Regions from separate parts of the Homo sapiens genome. Here region 1 is linked to region 2. Evidence: fine-mapped expression QTL. Tissue or cell type: prefrontal cortex. Region 2 holds a variant in brackets; the other region holds the start of a gene. All regions are shown on one strand. Distances are between the middles of the regions.

The links. PIP is the estimated chance that this variant, and not a neighbour inherited with it, causes the effect.
Region 1: FBXL4 starts here. The variant in region 2 is fine-mapped to the expression of FBXL4 in prefrontal cortex (CommonMind, PIP 0.95).

Annotation. Positions count from the first base shown.
Region 1 is chr6:98,946,561-98,949,483 of GRCh38, forward strand. FBXL4 (F-box and leucine rich repeat protein 4) reads right to left here and starts at 1,386. Exons shown (of 10, transcript NM_001278716.2): 1 at 1,246-1,386. RefSeq lists enhancers at 276-465, 1,269-1,780 and silencers at 906-1,215, 1,513-1,807.
Region 2 is chr6:98,869,980-98,872,902 of GRCh38, forward strand. FBXL4 (F-box and leucine rich repeat protein 4) reads right to left here. Exons shown (of 10, transcript NM_001278716.2): 10 at 1-2,923. Among named protein-coding and RNA genes, the nearest start is that of POU3F2, 37 kb to the left of the region's middle. The variant T/A (reference allele first, on the strand shown) is at 1,385.

The DNA of each region.
Region 1 (2,923 bases), 77 kb after region 2:
TACAGAGTACTATAATCGCATTATTTCATCACGGCGTGAGTAAAGAAATTATCCATCTTACAATGAGTTGACTTATCTGATTTTCAAATAACAGAAGGGAAGAGTTTGAAAATGCAGAGTTCAGAAAAGCCAACTTTTGGCGCAGAAGTTTAAAACAAAGTTAGTACTCAGAACATAAGTATGGAAAGAAGAATCCAATTCAAGGAACTTTTAGAGTGCCTACTAAAGCATAATGCACATTTCCCTCAAGTCCTTAATCTGATAAAGGACTATTGGAGCGCTGATGACTCTGGATGAATCTCTCTCTACTCAACCAACAGATACAATATGCGGTACAGGATAATGGAGGCAGGAAGTGAGCCTGAAAGAAAAAAATATATACCTATAGCTGAACTTAAGAAACCAAGGAGTGCACGCAAGAACCAGAAAAGGCAGCTTGTGTCTGTGAACAGACCAAAGCAAGCAGAGATCCCTGCACCTGGTGGTAATGTGCCCTCCGGAGCACAAAGCCAGACGGGCATCCTGCCAACGCAACTACCTGACCACAGGCTTATACCATCTTCACCTTCTATAATAGTTATTTGTATACTGTATTTCAATCTGTGAATGCATCTCGAAGGTTTGTGGCAATGATTACTGGGAAATCAAGGAAATCCAAAACCACCCGTTATAAATATGTCGACAAGGAGGCCAAGTAGATGGTCATCATCACACTCTAGGGGCACCCCTAAACCTAAACACAGAAACAAGGTTGTAGCTGGGCACCCTGTAGCAGTCCTGAAGAAAGAAAACAGGCCTGGTTAGGCAAAAACCATCGGATGTCAGAGGGAAATCAAGGCAGCAGGCACAGGAATCACAAGCACAGGCGGGCATGTGGCCGACGCGTGGCTGCCGGCGCAGCACTGAGCGCGGGTGTGGGGCGACCCGCAGTCCCCCGCGGTGTAAACAACCCTGAGCCGCGCACACGTCCGAACGACGCCTCACAGCCTGCAGGCAGACTGTAGCGTAGAAAGAGCCCGAGGCACGTCAGCAGTTCTCAAGGGCCCCAGCAAGCCCCGCAAGCGTGAAGCGGAGGCGCGGGGGCGCGGGGCCGCGGGCGGGGAGGGGCGGGCAGCGGGGGCCTCTGCCAGGCGTCCAGACTCCCCAAAGCGCGGAGCTGCGCGCTGGCTCGGCCCCGGCCCCGCCCCGGCGCCAAAGGAAGAAGACAGAGACCCACGGGAGGGAGAAGTAAAGGAAGGGCCGTACCCTGCAGGGTCCGGGAGAGGCGCGCGCCGCGGGCTTCACCAGCGACCAGGCAGCGCGAGAAGGCCTGGGTGCGGGGGCGGCTCCCCGACTCTCTAGATGCGGCACAACCGCCGCAAGCCCGGCCTAGCGCGACCCGGAAGGAAGACGCGGAGGCCGCGAGGAGCGGCGGGCCCGGGGAGGCGGGGCGGAGCCGGGGAGGAGGGGCGGGGCCGCGGGGTTGGGGCGGGGCCGGGGAGGCGGGGCGGGGCCTGGAGGGAGGCGGGGCGGGGCCAGAAGCAAAGCCGGGCGTTTCTCCCATGGGAGGTGCTCTGGGTCCTACGGACAGCCCGCTCCCAGGCCAGGGGGAGGAGCTTTCTGCTGGCTTCCTAGCTCCAGTGGTGCCCGTGTAAAGGGCCTAGGTCATACACAGCGGGTAGTGTCTACAAATCCTCTTCGGAATAATCCCTTCCGAGTACCGGCTCGCCATGTGTAGTGTGGTCCTACAAGGACTTCTTCAGTCCAGACTTGGTGGATCAGATGATACATAGGTAATACGGCTGGTACGCATACGTAGAGGAAAAGTATAATATACATTATATGCACTCTGAAGGTATAATTCACCTAGTTTACAAACCTCCTCTTCCCTGCATACAAATCCTGCCTGCAGGCTCATTTCCATACCAACGTTCAGAAGCCTCTGACCATTACCTCTGATGAAGAAGATGGTCTGGCAGCCTCTCTTACTCATTTTGATTTATTTTTGGTAGATTCAGTATGGCACTTTATTTATTTATTTATGTATTTTTTGAGACGGAGTCTCGCTCTGTCGCCAGGCTGGAGTGCAGTGGCGCGATCTCGGCTCACTGCAACCTCCACCTCCCAGGTTCAAGCGATTCTCCTGCCTCAGCCTCCCGAGTAGCTGGGACTACAAGGGCGCCAAGCTAATATTTTGTATTTTTAGTAGAGACGGGGTTTCACCATATTGGCTAGGATGGTCTTGATCTCCTGACCTTGTGATCCACCTGCCTCAGCCTCCTAAAGTGCTGGGATTACAGCCGTGAGCCACCGCGCCCGCCCTTGGCACTTTTTTTAGTTTGCATCATATTTATCTTGTTACAAAATATCCACTAAGATGGAAAATATTTAATAAAATGTTGAACTACACATTATTTGCTGTCTGAATGCTCCAATGAGGCAAACCAGTAAGGATATTTACTTATATATGAACAGAATCAATATATGATATGCAATATACATTGTATACAAAAAAATTAAAATTTTTATTTTCTTCAACTTTTTGATGCATAATAGCTGTACATATTTTCAGGGTATATGTGATAATTTGATTCATTTCTGTAATCAAATCAGCATAACTGGGTTACTCATCCCCTTAAATATTTATCTTTTCTTTGTGCTAGGAACATTCAAATTGTTCTCTTCTGGCTATTTTGACATGTACTATTGATAAATGTTAGCTGTAGTCACCCTACTGATCTATGGAACACCGGGTCTTATTTCTTCTAAGTGTATGTTTCTTCTAAGTGTATGTTTACCTCCCCTTGCTCCCCCATGGCCCACCCCCCCAATACTTCTCAGTCTCTGAGATCCACTTTCTGAACTCCCACATATGAGTGAGAACATGCATTATTTGCCTTTCTGTGCTTGGCTTATTTCACTCATCATAATGACCTCCAGTTCT
Region 2 (2,923 bases):
AAAGATAAATAATTATACAAAAATTTAAGTCAGTTGTCAAAGCTAACAATGCATCACCTGGCTTCAAAATTTAACAAACAAAGAGTCTACATAAATATCTTTCTTGTCTACACATCTTTCTTGTTATGGTAAACATTTTGTTTTTTCTAACAAAACACTGCTCTTCATTTTAAAATCTAAATGGCAAAATGAGAATGATAACAGCGAATTAACAGGTTTGAATGTGGTTTATAAAATTAGGAATGGGCAAACATGGATTAACTGACTCGAAAATACTCTGGAATAGGGGTCACAAATTTGGTCCACAAGCCAAATCCAGCCAGCTCATAAGAACAGTTTCACATTTTCTAATGGCTGAAAAAATCTAATGGCTAACACAGTAGTATTTTGTAACACATCAAAATTATGTAAAATTCAACTTTCAGTGCTCATGAAATTTTATTGGAACATGGCCACACTCATTCGTTTAGGTACTGTCTATGATTGCTTTCACATTAGAATGGCAGAGTTGAACAAATGCAAAGGAGACTTATGTGGTGCTGTCATCATTTTGCACTGCTACTTGGCACACTAAAAACTGCAGTAATGCAGTTACCAGCATTTTGAGTGCCACATATGTTGTCATACCACAATATTTTTAAATTTTTTATTACTAGTGCTTACCCATAACATCAAAACAAGAGAAAAAAAGAAAAGTAGACTTGAAGTGACATTTTTAAGGCACATTAGTATATGAATTTTTAAAAATCAGATTAGATGTCAGAGTATGATGTTTAATATGCAATGTCATTATAGCTGTTCTTAAAGAATACTATAGGGAGGTCAGATGCAGTGGTTCATGCCTGTAATCCAAGCATTTTGGGAGGCTGAAGTGGGTGGATCACTTGAGGTCAGGAGTTCAAGACCAGCCTGGACAACATGGTAAAACCCCATTTCTACTAAAAACATAAAAATTAGTTAGGTGTGGTGGCATGTGCCTGTAATCTCAGCTACTTGGGAGGCTGAGGCAGGAGACTCGCTTGAACCTGCAGGGTGGAGGTTGCAGTGAACTGAGATTGTGCCACTGCACTCCAGCCTGGGCAAAAGAATGAGACTCAGTCTCAAAAAAAAAAAAAAACAAACTCAAAAATGAAAATAAAGTTGCAGCCAAAGTGACTCAGATGTTAACCAAGCAAGGAAAACATTTTACTAACGATAACTAAATTGTGTTTGATTCTATCGGCTGAAGGACTGTGTCCAAAGTAAACTTAAGACTATTAAATTAGCCTTTTGGCAAGAATGGTTGCTTAAAGAATTGAGAACACTGGGAACAACATCAACAGTCAATAAAAAACAAGGCAAATGACCCTGAGTGGTTTTCCTTGGCTCTTGATGAGTCAACAGA[T/A]GTTACTGACACTGCCTAGTTATTGCTTATTTGATAAGTCAATGCCAACGTTGAAGTGACTGAAATTAGTCTCTATGAATTATCTGTGTGGCACAATTACAAGCATGAATATTTTATAAGAAGAAAACACAAATTTCATGCAACCTGAAGTAGAATCTGCTAAGATGTGTTACAACTGGTGGTGTTAAAAATGTGTGAAGCAAAATGATTACGTTTGTCAAATTTATAAAGCCTGTGAAAAGGTAAGAAGGTATTTAAAATCTATGGTTATTTACTGTATTATTCATCAGCAGGTACTTTGTGGGATATATTTGATTCAATTTTGTATTACTGAACTACTGGTAGCAATGGTGAACTTCATTTGCTCTCATAGTTTCTGATAGATTAAACATCAATGGTTCAGTTATCTTTTGTCAGATACAGAAGATGAATATGCTGATTTGCCCAACCACATTGGCATAATAGTGTTAGTTCTATTGTGAGCTTTTGCGTTCAGGGCTGATATTGACATTTTTCTGAAAAAGAAGACATGTCCTCAATCACTATTATGGAACACTGAATGGCTTTGGAATTTAGCTTTTGCTCAAGACTTAATAAAATTTTGAAATGAATTCAAGCCAAAATTACAAGGCAAAACGTGTTTACAAGCAAAACATAAGTCATTTTGATGACAACATTGTTTGAATTACAAGTAACAACAAGCTGCTTTACACATTTCCTGTGCTATCAAAAGGTAAGACAAAGAAGCGAGATCTCCACTCTCACACAAATTTGTAGCTCACACCATAGTGCCTGCAGTATTTTTTGGAGTTTGCAAATGTAAAGGAAATTTCCATTTTTCAAAATCAATTTAACAGTGCAATTGAGGAGCTTCTGCCTAGTCTTCAATTGGAAGTGATTAAGCTGCAATGTAATAACATGCTAAAAGGAAAATATCCAGAGAAGAAGTAACCTTTCAAGTGATGAATATGCTCAACAAAAATCATATTCTCATGGATTAATGTAAGTATTTGACAATACCTATCTGCAAGGAATTTTCAGAAGTAAAATACATAAAATCTTATTACAGATCAGCATTAACAAATGAGTACTTACAATCAACTTTAATGACACGAAACATTAACTTTGATCCTCCCTGTAAATATTTAATTCTTTTCATTAGTAAACCCGTATTACAAAAAAAATTGTTCTAAATTATTGTTTTGAATTTTGTCAATAAAATTTTCGTGCAAATTTTATTTCTCTCTAGTTATTTAAGTATCTACATAACAATCTCAGTTTTACCTCTTAGCCCACAAAGCCTAAAATATTTACTATCTGGCCCTTTATAGAAAAAGTTTCCTGACCTCTGCCCTAGAGCCAGAAGCTACCCTGAACACCTAAAAGCACAGGTTTAATGCAATGCTTCAGAAGCCAGATGGCCTGGGTTTATATGTTGGCTCTGCCACTAGCAGCTGTATGATCATAAATAAATTCTTCAATCTTTCTTTGCCTCAGTTTCCTCATCTGTAAATGGGGGTAAGTAATGGCATTTATCTT